Regions from separate parts of the Homo sapiens genome. Here region 2 is reported to be linked to region 1. Evidence: microRNA targets listed by miRTarBase, many of them from high-throughput screens and not tested one by one. Region 1 holds a microRNA gene; the other region holds the end of a gene's coding sequence.

Evidence for each region. The annotated mature microRNA hsa-miR-4795-3p reads AUAUUAUUAGCCACUUCUGGAU and lies in region 1 at 1,718-1,739, shown strand. An mRNA with a match to its seed (bases 2 to 7 or 8) in the 3' UTR can be bound and repressed. Matches are read on the target gene's strand: a 7mer-m8 pairs with bases 2 to 8, a 7mer-A1 pairs with bases 2 to 7 and ends in A, and an 8mer does both.
Region 2: the mRNA of ZNF180 is a reported target of hsa-miR-4795-3p. Seed matches in the 3' UTR shown: 8mer at 795-802 and 7mer-m8 at 1,136-1,142.

What each region holds. Positions count from the first base shown.
Region 1 is chr3:87,223,539-87,227,937 of GRCh38, reverse strand. MIR4795 (microRNA 4795) reads left to right here and starts at 1,661; the gene lies at 1,661-1,749. CHMP2B (charged multivesicular body protein 2B) reads right to left here and starts at 629. Exons shown (of 6, transcript NM_014043.4): 1 at 382-629. The coding sequence starts at 415. RefSeq lists enhancers at 418-537, 608-677, 728-777, 868-927, 1,038-1,177.
Region 2 is chr19:44,472,552-44,476,950 of GRCh38, reverse strand. It overlaps ZNF180 (zinc finger protein 180), which reads left to right. Exons shown (of 5, transcript NM_001278509.3): 5 at 1-2,508. The coding sequence ends at 549. It also overlaps the pseudogene ZNF285BP. Among named protein-coding and RNA genes, the nearest start is that of ZNF180, 26 kb to the left of the region's middle.

The DNA of each region.
Region 1 (4,399 bases):
TGCCTACAAGTAGTATATCGCCCAACTGAAGAGCAACAATCGAAGCAGAGGAAACCAACAAGAAATCCATCAGATTTCCAAGTTTATTGACACTCAAGGGCCAGCTAGCCTCCTCGAAACGCTCAGGATCCTGCTGAGGAAAACCCGAGGGTGGGGGAATCGTGAGGATAGGGAAGCAACCAGACTGCCTAGGTGAGCCTAAGGTGAGGTGAGTCAGAAGCAAGAGGGAGGCAGAGAAGTGGTGCCGCGAGGGCGGTCACCTGTGGGACCACTTGATCCAGCCCCGCCTCCAGGGACAGTAGGCAGAATCGCGGCCAGCAGGCCTCGAAAGACGCCGAGAAAACGCAGAGCTGGGCCCCTTCAGCCCGGCCTGGAACTCACCATCCACGGTTTTCTTCTTGAAGAGGGACGCCATGGTTAAAGACTGCGCCCGGGCGGCCCGGCTCGGCCCGGTCCGGCCCAACGCTGGCAAAGGACAGGAGGAAAAGGACAGGACCTTGGCGGGTTCGGGGTGGCGGAGCGGAGAGACAGCAGGAGGAGGTCGGGGTCGCCAGGCAGGACCCGCGGAAGGCTTGTATCCGCAGCTACCGCAGCCGCGTCACCCGGAGCTCAGGTGACCGGGAACTAACACACTTTTTGGAGAAGTCACTTCTAGGCGGCGCCTGCGCGTTGTGTGGCGCCTGCGCACTACGGAGTTTGAAGCCGCGGCCGCTTTCCTCACGTCTGCGGCTGCCAGTTCCTCCTGCACCGGGAGTTGGCAGCGGGGCGAGTCTGGAGCTGGCGGGGATAGGAGAGCGTGGGGCCACGGCTTCTGTGCGCGGGTTGGGTGATGATTGAGGACAGTGATCAGCCTTGCTTAGCGCTTCACCCCTTGCCCCGGGGAAAGCTGGATGAGGGATCTCCGGGCTCCTAGACTAAGTGTGGGTTGTCCCGGAACCGCCTGTACCCACTCCGAGTTGATTTATTACGGTCCCATTGCTGTTAGTATTTTTGTTGTTGTTGTTGTTGTTGTTTGTTTGTTTTTACTCGAGTAATCCAGGAACTGGCGGAAACGTTGAGTTCCGTACCCGGTGATTGTTGGCCCCTGGAGTTCGCGGTCCTTTCGGCACTGACTGACTCGGCGACCTCCCCCGCACCGCGCAGACCCCTGCAGGACCCTAGCCGCTCACCTGCCGCCCCCGGCTCCAGACTCCGACGACCCAGCGTGGGTCTCCGGGGATCCAGTGTCTAGAGTTGGGGGGGTCTCGAGGACGAAGGGAAGTTTTTTAATGCTACACTTTTTGTTTAAGGTTCTTGCCTGGAAACATTAAAACACACACACACACACACACACACACACACACACACAAATTTGTAGGCTGGTCTAAATGTCTCCAGCTCTATTTCTTAATTTCTTGTAAATCATGAATCATAAAGTGTCATGGCTATACGGTGATCCTATTAGAATTCCTCACAGCCGTTTATTTGGGCTTTTTGTGAAAAACTGCATATCATGTTAAAGAAAAAATGTAATGAATTATTTAAAGAATCCTTGCATGTATAAAATGGAAAATACAACCTATGCGTGCGTACCTGTATATAGTCTCTACTGTTTAAAGCAACACTGCCTTCCACAGGATAAAAATAATGGTAGCATTTTTTTTTTCATAAATATTATCTCTGATATGGAAGAAATCCAGAAGTGGCTAATAATATTGACACTATAACAATAATGTCAATATTATTAGCCACTTCTGGATTTATGAATCATGTCTCAAGGATTATTATTTATGATAATCAGGCCAGCCTTTCCCATTTTTCCCCTCCTGAGATATCCAAGCCCTCATAGCCACTGATAATGCTGCTGCTGCTGCTAAAAGTTAGCTGAGAGTCTGTTCAAGAAAACTTTCTTAAGAATGACGTAGTAATATGCAAGATATAATTGTTTTGCTTCTCCTCAAGTTATTCTCGATATGGGAAGATGAAGTAAGGAAACATTAGGAAGACATGTAAGTGAGAAGATTTAGTCTCTGCACTCAAGACCGGGCCTTTTCTGGAGTGAGCTCTATGGCAGTTTGCCCTGGCTGTCTGTTGTAATGAATGGCATAGAGCTGTGCTTGAACGCATGAGAGGCAATAAGCTGTTATGTGTGTAGTAATCGTACTCCTCCCTGCTGCAGTCACCCTTGTTTTATTACTCCTATACAATCCCCCCCACTGACCCAATTGTAACAGTTGGGAAAATGCCAAAATACTTAGGAGCAACCATATGGAAGACCCTCCAAAAGTGCACAGCAGGAGCTAAAGACAGGGCTTGTTCATTACAATAAAGACAAAATAGAAATATTTACTATTTAAACTCAGTACTCTAATAGCTTGTTCTCCCATAGTTTGAAGAAGGCTGATATTCAGCTGATTGCACCAGTCTAGCTAGAGTCCATTCTGATTAGTTGGTGGCCACATTTCTCCTGTACACATTTTGTATTATTATATCGCTCCTTATTTAAAGGGCATGATACACTTAAATATATGTTGTTTTCTGGAGTATTTCATAACATAGTTTCCTCCTCTGAAACTGAAATATTTGCCATTTTTTCATCTTTGGGTACCTCGGGTTATAATTTGAATGGGTGCATTCTTCTCCTTGTTCAGCTTTTGAAGAAAGATAGCATAACATTGGAGAGTGCTGATTCTGGACACAGACTGCCCAGTTCTGTGACCAATTCTGTGACTTTTAAGTTTTAAGACCTAGGCCAGTTCACTGAAGCTCTCCGTGTTTCTTTCATCACATATGTGATAGAGATAACATTAGCCCACCTTTCATATATTAGGTTGGTACAAAAGTAATTGGCGAAAACCACAGTTACTTTTGCACCAACCTAATAGCTGTTGCAAGGATTAAATGAGTTAATATGTTAAACATTCAAAGTAGTGCTTGGCACGTAATGTCTTAGCCCCTCTGTGCAGCTACAACAAAATACCACAGACTGGGTAATTTATAAACAGTAGAAATTTATTTCTCACATTTGTGGAGGCTGGGGAGTCCAAGATCAAGGAACCCAGAGGTTTTGTTTCTGGTGAGAGCTGCTTTCTGCTTCCATGATGGTACCTTGCTGTTGCATCCTCAAGAAGAAAGAGATGCTGTATCCTCACATGGCAAGAAGGACAGAAGGGTAAAAGGGCGGTAGGCAGCTCCCTCACACCTGTTTTATAAAGGAACTAATCTCATTCATGAGGGCTCCACCCTCATGACTTAATCACATCCTAAAGTTCCCACCTCTAAAAACTATCACATTAGTGATTAAGTTTCAACATATGAATTTTTGGGGGGTACATTCACACCATATCACATAATAATCATTTTTGTATTATCTGTATTGTTGTTTCCAGCTGTTTTACCTTTTTATGCTTTCTCAAGTAATCTTCATGCTGAAATTCTCTTCTCTGTAGTACAGAAAACACAAATTGAAGATTTAGGCTTTCTGATGCTGATCTTGGTTACCTTCACCTTAACAGCCACCACCTCCCCAAATTAGCCCATTTCTTTCTCCTTAATAAAAAAATGGTTTTATTCTCAGCAAACTAACACAGGAACAGAAAACCAAACACTGCATATTCTCACTCATAAGTGGGGGTTGAGCAGTGAGAACACATGGACACAGGGAGGGGAACATCACATGCCAGGGCCTGTCAGGGGGTGGGGGGAAAGGGGAGGGAGAGCATTAGGACAAATACCTAATGCATGTGGGGCTTAAAACCTAGATGATGGGTTGATGGGTGCAGCAAACCACCATGGCACATGAAGACCTATGTAACCAACGTGCACGTTCTGTACATGTATCCCAGAACTTAAAGTAAAATAAACAAATAAATAATAAGATAATGGTTTTCTTGTTCTTAAATCTGTTATTTGTGTAGGAATTGACTTGTTATAGAAATATGTATCTAACATTGGTACTGGAAGGATTCGGTGCAGATTTGTTTCTGTTTGTCTTTTCTCCTCAGCTTCAATTTTAAACTCCTTGGGTTCAGAGAGAATCTCTTGTCAGGCCCTTCAATAATTTTCCTACTAGAATGTAAATATATTTAATAGAAACTTAATATGCAATCGTATTTTCATATTATCCATGTTTCAATGTTTTAACGCCAAATGACAAGTATATATATATACATTTGGTACATTTTTGTTGATTTGACACATTTAACTTCAAGTCTCTTTATATATGAAAAGCAGCTAACATTATCTATCTCCATGAACAACAGTAGAGATCTAGAGAACCTAAAAGTCAATAAATAATTCTGTATGTATGTAAGGATTTAGCGAAAACATCAACTCATTTGTTTCATGTTTCACATGGATTCAAATTTGAGCATACTTTAAGCTGTTTTGCTATTTCACTAACTACACTGTATTCTGCTTT
Region 2 (4,399 bases), not on the chromosome of region 1:
CATCAGAGAACTCACACAGGAGAAAAACCCTTTGAATGTAATCAGTGTGGGAAATCCTTCAGCTGGAGCTCTCAGCTTGTTGCACATCAAAGAACTCACACTGGAGAGAAACCGTATGAATGTAGTGAATGTGGAAAATCTTTTAACCGCAGTTCTCACCTTGTTATGCATCAGAGAATTCACACTGGGGAAAAACCGTATGAATGTAATCAGTGTGGGAAATCCTTCAGCCAGAGTTATGTTCTTGTTGTACATCAGAGAACTCATACTGGAGAAAAGCCCTATGAATGCAGTCAATGTGGGAAGTCCTTCAGACAGAGTTCATGCCTTACTCAACATCAGAGAACTCATACTGGAGAGAAACCATTTGAATGTAATCAGTGTGGAAAAACATTTAGCTTGAGTGCTCGACTTATTGTGCATCAAAGAACTCATACTGGAGAGAAACCCTTTACATGTATTCAGTGTGGAAAAGCTTTCATTAATAGCTATAAACTTATTAGGCATCAGGCAACTCATACTGAAGAGAAACTCTATGAATGTAACTAGTTTGTAAATCAGCTGGGATTTCTTCCTTTTTATTTCATTCTTTTAAAAAATTTATTTTAAGGTAGTACATGTAGTTGGAAGAACTACTATAAAAACAATATATGTGGGAAAACTTCCAGCCCTCTGTTAATTGTGTGTCTCAAATTTGTTCTGGAAAAGAAAGGGGGAAAGTCTATGAACGACTTTTCAACCTGGCAATTCCATATACAATGTTAAACTTGATTCTTATGACATATTCCTATGAAAATAATAAATACTGGCACTTTTCCTTGCAGAAAGCACTCAGACCTGAATCAGAGAAAATCATATGCCAAAGCCAACTGCCAGTGTTAGACCTCTTTTTCCATAAAGAGTAAATGGAATGCTAACACTAGTGGGCTTATTGAGAAAATTTAAAGGTTGCTGTAGTGTTTAGAACTTAGGCTGGAAAACCATATTTTAGTGCATCATTTTACTACATGATCTTCCAATTAGATAGCTTGTAATCTGTTCCTTACAGCACTTGCTGTTGTTACATGTGAAGATTTTATAAATTTTAGGAAAGTGTCTATGATATATAGTGAAAAGTGTGGGAAAAGAATATAGAAATAATATTCACTTCTAAAACCATTATGATAAAATATTTGTGTATGGATTAGAATAGAAAGGGATTATGGATGTATCTATTCAATTTCTCAGTTTATGTTGGGCCTTCCTTTTTGGAATGTACGCTGTTATGCTATGATAAATGATATAATGAGTAAAAATTATTCAAAGCCAAAAATGAAATACAAAGATTTCCTTCTTTGACTATTTAGGAAAGACTAAGCAACCAAATAGCAAAGATCCCTCAGGATAATGAGGTTTATGTTTGGAATAGCATGAGCAGATTACTACTTAGGACATAGATTCCTAGGAACATTCCTCATTGAAAATAAAATGGATTCCTGGAAATAGGTAACTAGAAATTTTGGCCAGAAATGGTTTCATATGAAGAACTGAGAATGCGTGGGAAGTATAGAGGGCAAGTGGGCTTATTTTCATATATGCAAAGCAATATTAAGGAACTCTATTTTCATGTTTTAGTTCTTCCCCTCATGTAGCATTGTCTCTTTCCTCTGGGATATGTTCCCTGATGTGAGAGTCCTCTGAATAGAAGGGTGCTTCCCTGGCTCAGTGCTGACCGTCTAAATTATGCTTGCAAAAATGCTTTCATGAGGCAAAGTTTTAGTTACTCTTTGATATTTAAGATTTGATTAACATGTCTTTCTGACCTTTCCCTTGAATCATGAATTTGAATCCTGTGGATGACCATATATTGAAGCCTCTGATCCCAGAAAGGTAATAAGCTGAAAGTTGAACTGAGAGACCAGATAATAGAGGTTAATACCCTTGGGATAGGAAAGAAAACTTAAAGGGTAACTGATGGGGTTATCCTTAGCAAAATTCTATCCCTATGAGATGACCCTAAGTGGAGCCATCTCTATGAGGATTAATCCAGAGATTGTTGCACACCTGGCAGTGTCAGGTCTGGGAAAACAGTTGCTGATGTTTTCATGGAGTGTGAAATACTGAAAGCTGCGGGCATCCCTTGGGGACCACTGACCCACACTTTGAAGAACCCTCAATGAGTCTGAAAGAGGTTCAGTATCTCTTGGGAAGGATGTGTTCCAGGCTCCAGGCCTAGTCTTACATGGCCAGTGGGGTTGAAAGACTGTGCCCCTGCAATGGTCTTTTCCTAAGACAGTTGAACAAAGTTCCAAGTCTGTCTGTCCTATTTTAACCATCTTTAAGAAGCACAAAGGGGATATGAGAAAAACAGATGCTGAAATGAAAATTTTAACTGATATCTTACTTATCTCACAAGTCGTGTAAAGAAAGAAATGATATGGTCGAATATTAGATTAGATGGTTTAATGATGTTTTGAGTGTTATATATGAGCTATGATGAGACCTAGAAAATAAAGTAAAAATAAAAAATATATAAGCCATGAACATTCTTCATATTCAGTGACAGTCTGCCTGCCACACCCAGGAATTACAGAGACACTCATAGACCTCACGGGATCCTCCCCTATGTCTCCCATCTCTTCACCACCAGCCCTCAGGGAGTCTCATGTCTCCCAATTACTCTCCAATCATTCCTAGATTTCTGTAACAGTCAGGCCCTGACACCCATGTAACAAGCAGAAACTCAGGGACCTCACAGGGCTCTGGCCCCATGTCTCCCAACTCTTTACTCCAGGCCCTCAGGTACTCTCCTGTGTCTCCCAGATTCTCTCAATCCCCAGCTTACTGCAACATTCAGCTTCCCAAACCCAAGTATCACCTATAGACAAAAATCTCAGGGCCCTCTTCTATCACGTCTCCCATCTCTTCACCTGCAACCCTCAGGGACTCTCCTGTGTCTCCCAGCTCCTCTCCAACCATCCCCAGATTTCTCCTTGGGTCAGCCCTGAACACACAGGAGTCACCCAGAAACTCATAGACCTCACTGTGCTCCTCCCTTATCTCTGTCACCTCTATACCACCATTCCTTAGGGCCTCATCTGTGTCTCCCAGCTATTCTCCAAGCATCCTCAGTTTTCTGCAAGAGTCACCCCTCAGCATTCAGGAGAACCCTAGAAATTCACAGAGCTCACCAGATTATTCCCCAACTACCTCCACCTACACAGCAATGGCTCCCACATACTCCCTGGGGGCCCCACACCTATCTTCCTTTACACTCAGAGACTCCCAGGGCCTCACAGTCACTCCCCATTATCATCATTCAGCTGTAAGTCCTTGCAAATCTCCTGGCCAACGTGATGCATTTACCTGCCCATTTCTCCACATTCCTGCTCAGGGTCCCACACCTAGCCGCAGAAGAGCCCCTTCCGCATTCCAGCCTCAAATACAGGCTTGTCCTTCTACTTCATACTGCCACACACTTGCCGGCAGAAGAGGCGCGTCTAATGGCCGACATCACCACCCAGGCAATCATCACCCCTCAGCTGTGCAGCGGGACCCTCCTGCCTGCCGATGTGGCTGCCGGCGCCTGTGCCAGCGCGAACCCCCAGCCTGTCATGCTGACCTCATCGATGGCAGCGTCCCTGTCTTTTGCTCCCCCAGCCCTCCCAAAGGCTGAGTTAGCCTCTATCATCTGGAATACAGTGTGGCTTCTGTTTTCCTAATTGAACCCTGACTTACTACCTTTATAATGTTTCTCTCTGCTTATGTAGTCTTTGATGAGTCAGAAGGTCCTTGCCACGCTCACAATGTGTGTACTGTGTCTCATCTATATGCACTCTCTGATGGGCAAGGAGGTATGAATTACGACTGAAGCCCTTACCACATGCCTTACACTTATAGGGCCTCTCTCCTGTGTGGACTCTGAGGTGAACACGAAGATCTGAATTCCGACTGAAGTCTTTACCACACTCATCACATTTATATGGTTTCTCTCTGGTGTGATCTCTTTGATGTAAGTGAAAATATGAACTGTAACTAAAGCACTTTCCACACACTTTGCATTTATATGGTTTTTCTCGAGTGTGAACTCAGATGAGTGTGAAGAACAGAGCTATACACAAAATCCTTTCCACACACATTGCATTTGTATGGTTTCTCCCCTGTGTGGACTCTCTGGTGAATGTGAAGGTGTGTACTTTGGCTGAAGCCCTTTCCACACTCATCACACCTATAAGGTTTCTCCCCTGTGTGAAACCTCCAGTGGACTTGAAGAACGGAGCTTGAACTAAAGCACTTGCCACACTCACTGCATTTGTAGGGCTTCTCTCCAGCGTGGACTCTCTGATGGACAAGAAGGTTGGAGCTCTGATCAAAGCCCTTCCCACACTCTTCACTTTTATAGGGCTTTTCCCTGTGTGTA